Linked DNA regions of Homo sapiens: region 2 is linked to region 1. Evidence: fine-mapped expression QTL. A gene starts in region 1. The other region holds a variant in brackets. All regions are shown on one strand. Distances are from middle to middle. Region 1 holds the start of CD72 (CD72 molecule). Region 2 holds the start of LOC101926948 (a long non-coding RNA gene).

Evidence for each region. PIP is the estimated chance that this variant, and not a neighbour inherited with it, causes the effect.
Region 2: its variant is fine-mapped to the expression of CD72 in sun-exposed skin (GTEx, PIP 0.91).

The regions. Positions count from the first base shown.
Region 1 is chr9:35,616,792-35,619,690 of GRCh38, forward strand. CD72 (CD72 molecule) reads right to left here and starts at 1,622. Exons shown (of 9, transcript NM_001782.3): 1 at 1,431-1,622; 2 at 1,223-1,330; 3 at 385-456. The coding sequence starts at 1,512. RefSeq lists enhancers at 1-37, 477-626.
Region 2 is chr9:35,645,040-35,647,938 of GRCh38, forward strand. LOC101926948 (a long non-coding RNA gene) reads left to right here and starts at 1,231. Exons shown (of 2, transcript NR_135130.1): 1 at 1,231-1,394; 2 at 1,651-2,437. It also overlaps a transcript of CD72 not described here. RefSeq lists an enhancer at 1,403-1,782. The variant G/C (reference allele first, on the strand shown) is at 1,534.

The sequences.
Region 1 (2,899 bases):
AGAGGAGGGCGGTGCAGAGCTGAGGGGGCAAGCATGGTGGTTTCTGTCGGGTAGCGGGGTGTTTCGCAGGTAGGGGAGAGGGTGTTCCAGAATCAGTGCTGGTGGGGACTCGGGGGCGTTACCTGGGAGAAGGGGAAGGAAATATCAGACGGAGAGAGGGGAAGGGGGGCAGGTAGGTGAATTGGGACCATCCGCAGGGGGGCGGTGCACGTCGGATTCAGGCGCACCGGATGAAGGTGAATGTGGCACGGCAGCCCGGGCGTCGGAAGGACTGCGCCCGGGTTTATCCCGGAAGGAGCTGCACCCCGCGGGGCCCAGCGCCATCCGCAGCCGGGACAGGCGCGAGCACTTGGCCCCGCGGCTGCCCCGCACAGGCACACTCACAGGGGAGAATCCGCCCGACAGCTGGTGACGTCACGGCTCTCCAGGACGCAGTTGGCTGCTCCGACTTGACCGCTGTCGAGGGGAGCATCCAGTGTGAGACCGGAAGCCCCGAGTGTTGCCCCTTCTCCTCCTGCGCACCCGCTTCGCCCTCGCCACTGGGAAACTCCAGTCTGCCCTACGTTGCCTGCTAGAGCTGCTCTGGGACACAGTGTCACTCTCCTGAGTTCCTCCTCTGCCCGGGACTCTCTCGGCTTCCTCCTGGGTCTCACTGTATCTTTTCCCGGGACCCCCTCATCTCTCCTAGTTCTCCCTTTATCGTTTCCTCAGAGGCCCCTTATCTGTCGGCTCCAAACCCTCTCCCCCTTTGCTCTCATCCATCTCCCATCACCTCTTTTCCCTCCCATGGCTCCCCGTTTCCCATTAGAACTCATCCCCCACAGGGCTGCCCTATCCCTCCGCAGCCCTTATCTCCCCGAAAGGGGTCTCCACCTTGCGGGAGGAATCTTTCTTCCTCCCCTGGCTCCCATTTATCCTGTTCCTATTCTTCTGTTTCCTAAGAACCGCCCTCCTCCTTTCCCCAGGGTATTGTGCTCTCAAGAATACTGAGGGCCATGGCATGGGGGCGCACGCCTGCAATCCCAACACTTTGGGAGGCCAGGGCAGGAGGATCACTTGAGCCCAGGAGGTCGAGGCTGCAGTGAGCCATGATCACACCACTGCACTCCAGCCTGAGTGACAGAACAAGACCCTGTCTCAAGAACAACAACAAAAACATTGTGGACTCCCCAGCTCAAGACACAGCCCCCCAACAAACACACATCCCCCAGGCTCTCCAGACCTGCTTTGTCCCCTAGTACAGAAGAAGCCAAGCTTGAGGGCACCCCTAGGACTGCGGGCACTTGAACATTCTCGTAGGTGATTTCCCCATCATCATCAGCCCCTGGGTCTAGAGAGAAGAGAAAAGGGACCAAGGTGGGATTTGGGAATGGGATCTGTGGGGCGGGAAGTGGGGATGCAGGATCAAGGGGAGGCCTCATCCCCCTTACCCTGTCCTAACCGGCTGGAGATGCTCTTCTTCAGGGGAGCCTTCACAAACCTCAGATCTGCATAGGTGATGGCCTCAGCCATGGTCCTGAGCAGCTCTGCCCCCACTCGTCTTCCCTGTCATCCACTGTCCTCCCTTGCCCCTCTCGTCTCTGTCCGTTTACAACTAGGCTCTGTGTTCCCTCTGTGACTGCACGGCTTAGCAATTGGCCCTGTGACTTCCAGTCACAAAAGAGGAAGGTGTTAGCAAGTCTCAAACAGATGGGCTCAATGAAGCAGAAGGCATCCCTGGGCCAGGGCCAGAGGGGCCACGGAGGGGACGCTGAGGTCCAGAACACAGGGGTAGGGGATGGGCCTGTCCCCATGTCCTCCCTGTGCTTCCTCTCCATGCATCTTAAACCCATATGGGCCATGCTGGGCCCCAAACTCGGTCCTTCTGGTTATCTGCCCTGATCTGCCCCACCCTCCTCCTGGCTGCCTTGTCCACTGGGGCTTATGATGTGTAGCTGGAGCTGCACTGACCCAGACGATCTCCCCAGCTCCAGGGTGAGGCTCCGTTCTCCCCATGAGACTGGGGGTTCCTGGTTTGCATCCCTCGCTTCTCATCATCCTGGGGGTTCCAGTAACTGGGGGTTCAGGAACAGGCCTGGGCCAGAGGTGAAGGTAAGGAAGAGCCATGGCTGCAGCACCTCTGGAAAGGCAAGTGGCAGCACTGCCCCCCATGCACCCTCATGGGGAGCCAGGGAGCAGGTGAGCAAGGGAGTTGCAGAGGGCTTAAGAAGGCTGCAGCTTCCTAGGTGAAGTCAAGGCAGAGGAGCAGAACAGAGCCAGAGGCCGAGCGCAGATTCCGGACCAGCGGAGGTCTTGACATTTTCTTGGTTTGGTTTTGGTTCGTCTCTTACTTTCCTAGCAAAGTTCTTTCTTTAAAAAGTCCCAAAGCTGTCCCTTCCCACCCAGCCCCAAGGAAAAAGGGGGCATTTGTGGCGGAGGACCCAGGGACCGCGAGGCCCTCATAGGTGGTGGGGGCCTGGCTGATGGAGGAGAGAGGGAACCAGTTGGGGGAAAGGGGGCTGCTGAGCAGGGGTGCCCAAAGGTGCTCCCTAATGTTCTTTTACCGGGATGTGACCCCTACTAGGAACCCCAAAATGGCCTACATCCGGGATAGGAAGGAGCTAGAACAAGATGTAGTGTGGGGGTGGGAAGAACCCGCCCCTAGCAAAGTGACATCCGCCCCGCAGAATCCCCCTCCTGCAGCTGTGGGGAGGAAAAAGGAAGGGGGAAAAGGTCCTCACCACATGCCAACAGCTCGGATGATTGGTGGTGTGTGGCAGGACACTGCCAGGGACCCTAGAGCTCTGCCAATAGCTCCGCCCAGCCAGCCCTAGAGGAAGTGGCCACTGAGGCAAAGCTGTGACCTCAAAAATGTACTTGTAGAGAGGCACGTGTGCATGTGTGTGCATGGATATGCATG
Region 2 (2,899 bases), 28 kb after region 1:
AAACACAAAATAAGCCGGGGGTGGTGGAGCATGCCTGTATTCCCAGCTACTCGGGAGGTTGAGGCAGAAGAATCGCTTGAACCCAGGAGGCGGAGGTTGCAGTGAGCCGAGATCTCGCCACTGCACTTCAGCCTGGGCAACAAGAGCGAAACTCCGTCTCAAAAAAAAAAAAAAAAAGGAATTCATTAGCTTACATAGCCAAAAAGTTCAGAAGGCAAATATAGCTCTGGGCATGTCTAGATTCAAGGTTTCAAATGAAGTCATTAAGACTCGGTCTGGGCCAGGCGCTGTGGCTCACGCCTGTAATCCCAGCGGGTGGATCACTTGAGGTCAGGAGTTGGAGACCGGCCTGGCCAACACGGTGAAACCCCGTCTCTATTAAAAATACAAAAATTAGCAGGGCATGGTGGTGCACACCTGTAGTCCCAGCTACTAGGGAGGCTGAGGCAGGAGAATCGCTTGAACCCAAGAGGTAGAGGTTGCAGTGAGCCGAGGTTGCACCACTGCACTCCAGCTTGGGCAACAGAACAAGACTCCGTCTCAAAAAACAAAAACAAACAAAAAAAAACTTGGTCTGTATTATGCATTGTATGCGTATATCAAAATATCTCATGTACTCTATAAATACATACACCTACTATGTACCCATAAAAATTAAGAATTAAAAAACACTTGGTTTCTCTCCACAACCCAGCTCTGTTTCCCTCCTTGTAAGAAAACCAAGCTGGAAGTTTAAACCCATCTTTGAGAGACTACAGAGCAGGGCCAAAGATGGAGGTGCCCTGGCCGGATGGCTTCCAAAGACCCTCCCCACCTATAAGTAATTTCTTAAGAACCTGGCCAGGCTCGGTGGCTCAAGCCTGTAATCCCAGCACTTTGGGAGGTCTAGGTGGGCGGATCACCTGAAGTCAGGAGTTCACCAGCCTGCCCAACATGGCGAAACCCTCTCTCTACTAAAAATACAAAAATAATTAGCCGGGAGTGTTGGCGGGCGTCTGTATTCCCAGCTACTCAGGAGGCTGAGGCAGGAGAATCTCTTGAACCTGGGAGGCGGAGGTTGCAGTGAGCCGAGATCGTGCCATTGCACTCCAGCCTGGGCGACAGGAGCAAGACTTCGCCTCAAAAAAAAAGAAAAAAAAAAAGAACTTCCTGCTGTTGAACCTTTGACTGTCCCGGAGACCCTCCCTCTTCCGTTTTCAATGTGTCCCTATCCTCCTAGCTAGGCTTTAAGAAAGAGGAGGGACAGCTGGGGCCCTAGGAGCTCCCCCTGAGGGTCTGTCCCTGGGAACGGGGCGCTAGGACGGGCACTCCTTCTGGCTGGAATGCTACGCCGGTGAGGGAAAGGAGTCCACTAGGGAAGTACCTGGAGGTGGAGACGGGGAGAGAAATCACAGGTATTTGTGAGTCGATCAGCTAGAGGGTGTGGCAAGGGGGGGCCCCTCGGAAGATGTCTTAAGTTCCAGGTTCAGGAATCAATAGGGAAACTGCCCAGTCCTTGTGTTCAGGGCTGAGGGCCTCGGTGACGGAGACGAG[G/C]TAAGAAAACGGAACGGCTGTACAGGAGAAGACAGAGAATCCGGGCTGGGGGACGGAAAACAAAGTTCAAATCATACCCCGCTACAGTCACATATGAAAAATAAAATTGTTTTACAGAAACTCAGTTTACAAACGACTGCTTGGGAGCAGTCATGTCACCCAGTCCAGAGGGAGCCGGTCAGCTGCGTTCCGCGAACTTGGGAGGCGACTGCTGGGGTAGCGGCGGGGCCCTCACTGCGCGTCGTCAGGGACCAGACCCTGGGGTGGCCCCGAAGCGTCGAGACTACAACTCCCGGGATGCCGCGGGCCAGGCTGCATCCCGCCTGCGCAGAAGTGGTGGCAACTCCGCCCCTCGCCAGGCGGCGGCGCTGCGGACTCAGTCCTAAGCGGGCGAAGGCGGCGAGCGCCGTGGGTCTGGGCGGGCCAGGAGAACCGGGTGCTTCGAGGAGATCTGCGGGCTGGGTTGGGGGCGTTTGACCCCTTGGCTTGTCCCAGTGGGTAGGCGGGACTCCAACCCCCGCCTCCTCCAGGGTAAAGCTCTCACGTCCACCTGGCGCGACGCTGAGCCATCTTCAGAAGCACCGCAGCCCTCAGAACCCCACATCCCGCTGCCGGTGGTTCCCCGCATCCGGTGTCCGCCCCCGAAGCCTCCCTCCCTCCCTCCTCCGCATCCCCAGCTACCTGCCCTTAACCGCGACCTGGGCCTCTCCTGGGGAGGCCCAGGGTGGGGTCCTCAGAGGTCCAGGGACCCAGGGGCATTTGTGGGGTCTGTAGGGGGGTGGGCTTAAGGGAAGGGTGGTCCCTTTCAAATTGGGACCACCAGGCAGGAATCAGGCGCACGGGTTCCTCCTCTGTGGCTTCCTGTGGCACTCCAAGTGGGAAGAAGAGAAGCTTGGAAGTGAAAGCCTCAGCTTCTCCTTTCTTCAGCCCCTCAAGCCTCAGAAAGATCTGTCAAGCGCGGCCCGCCTCTACAGAGGCCCTGGGGAGATGGTCTAGACCTTGAAATATCCTAGAAGAGGTTTGACAGGTTGGAGCTTTTGCTAGACAGATGGATCACAGATGGGCTTAAGGGGTGGAGGGTGTGTGTGTGTTTGTGAGAGAGAGAGAGAGAGAGAGAGAGAGAGAGAGAGAGATTGCCAGGTGAGGAAGGTGATGAGCTGAAACCAACTTGGAGCTATGCTGTATTATGATGATGAGGATTTGGGTTGGGGGGTGTTACAGGCTCTAACCAGAAATCTGGAAGATGTGATAGGTGGGGCCTTTAAAAAAAAAAAAAACCCTAAACATCTCTTTGTAATCCATCCCTCCTCTGCATCCCTACCGCTACTGCCGCCATCCCCTCTCACTCAAATCTTGCAATAGCCTT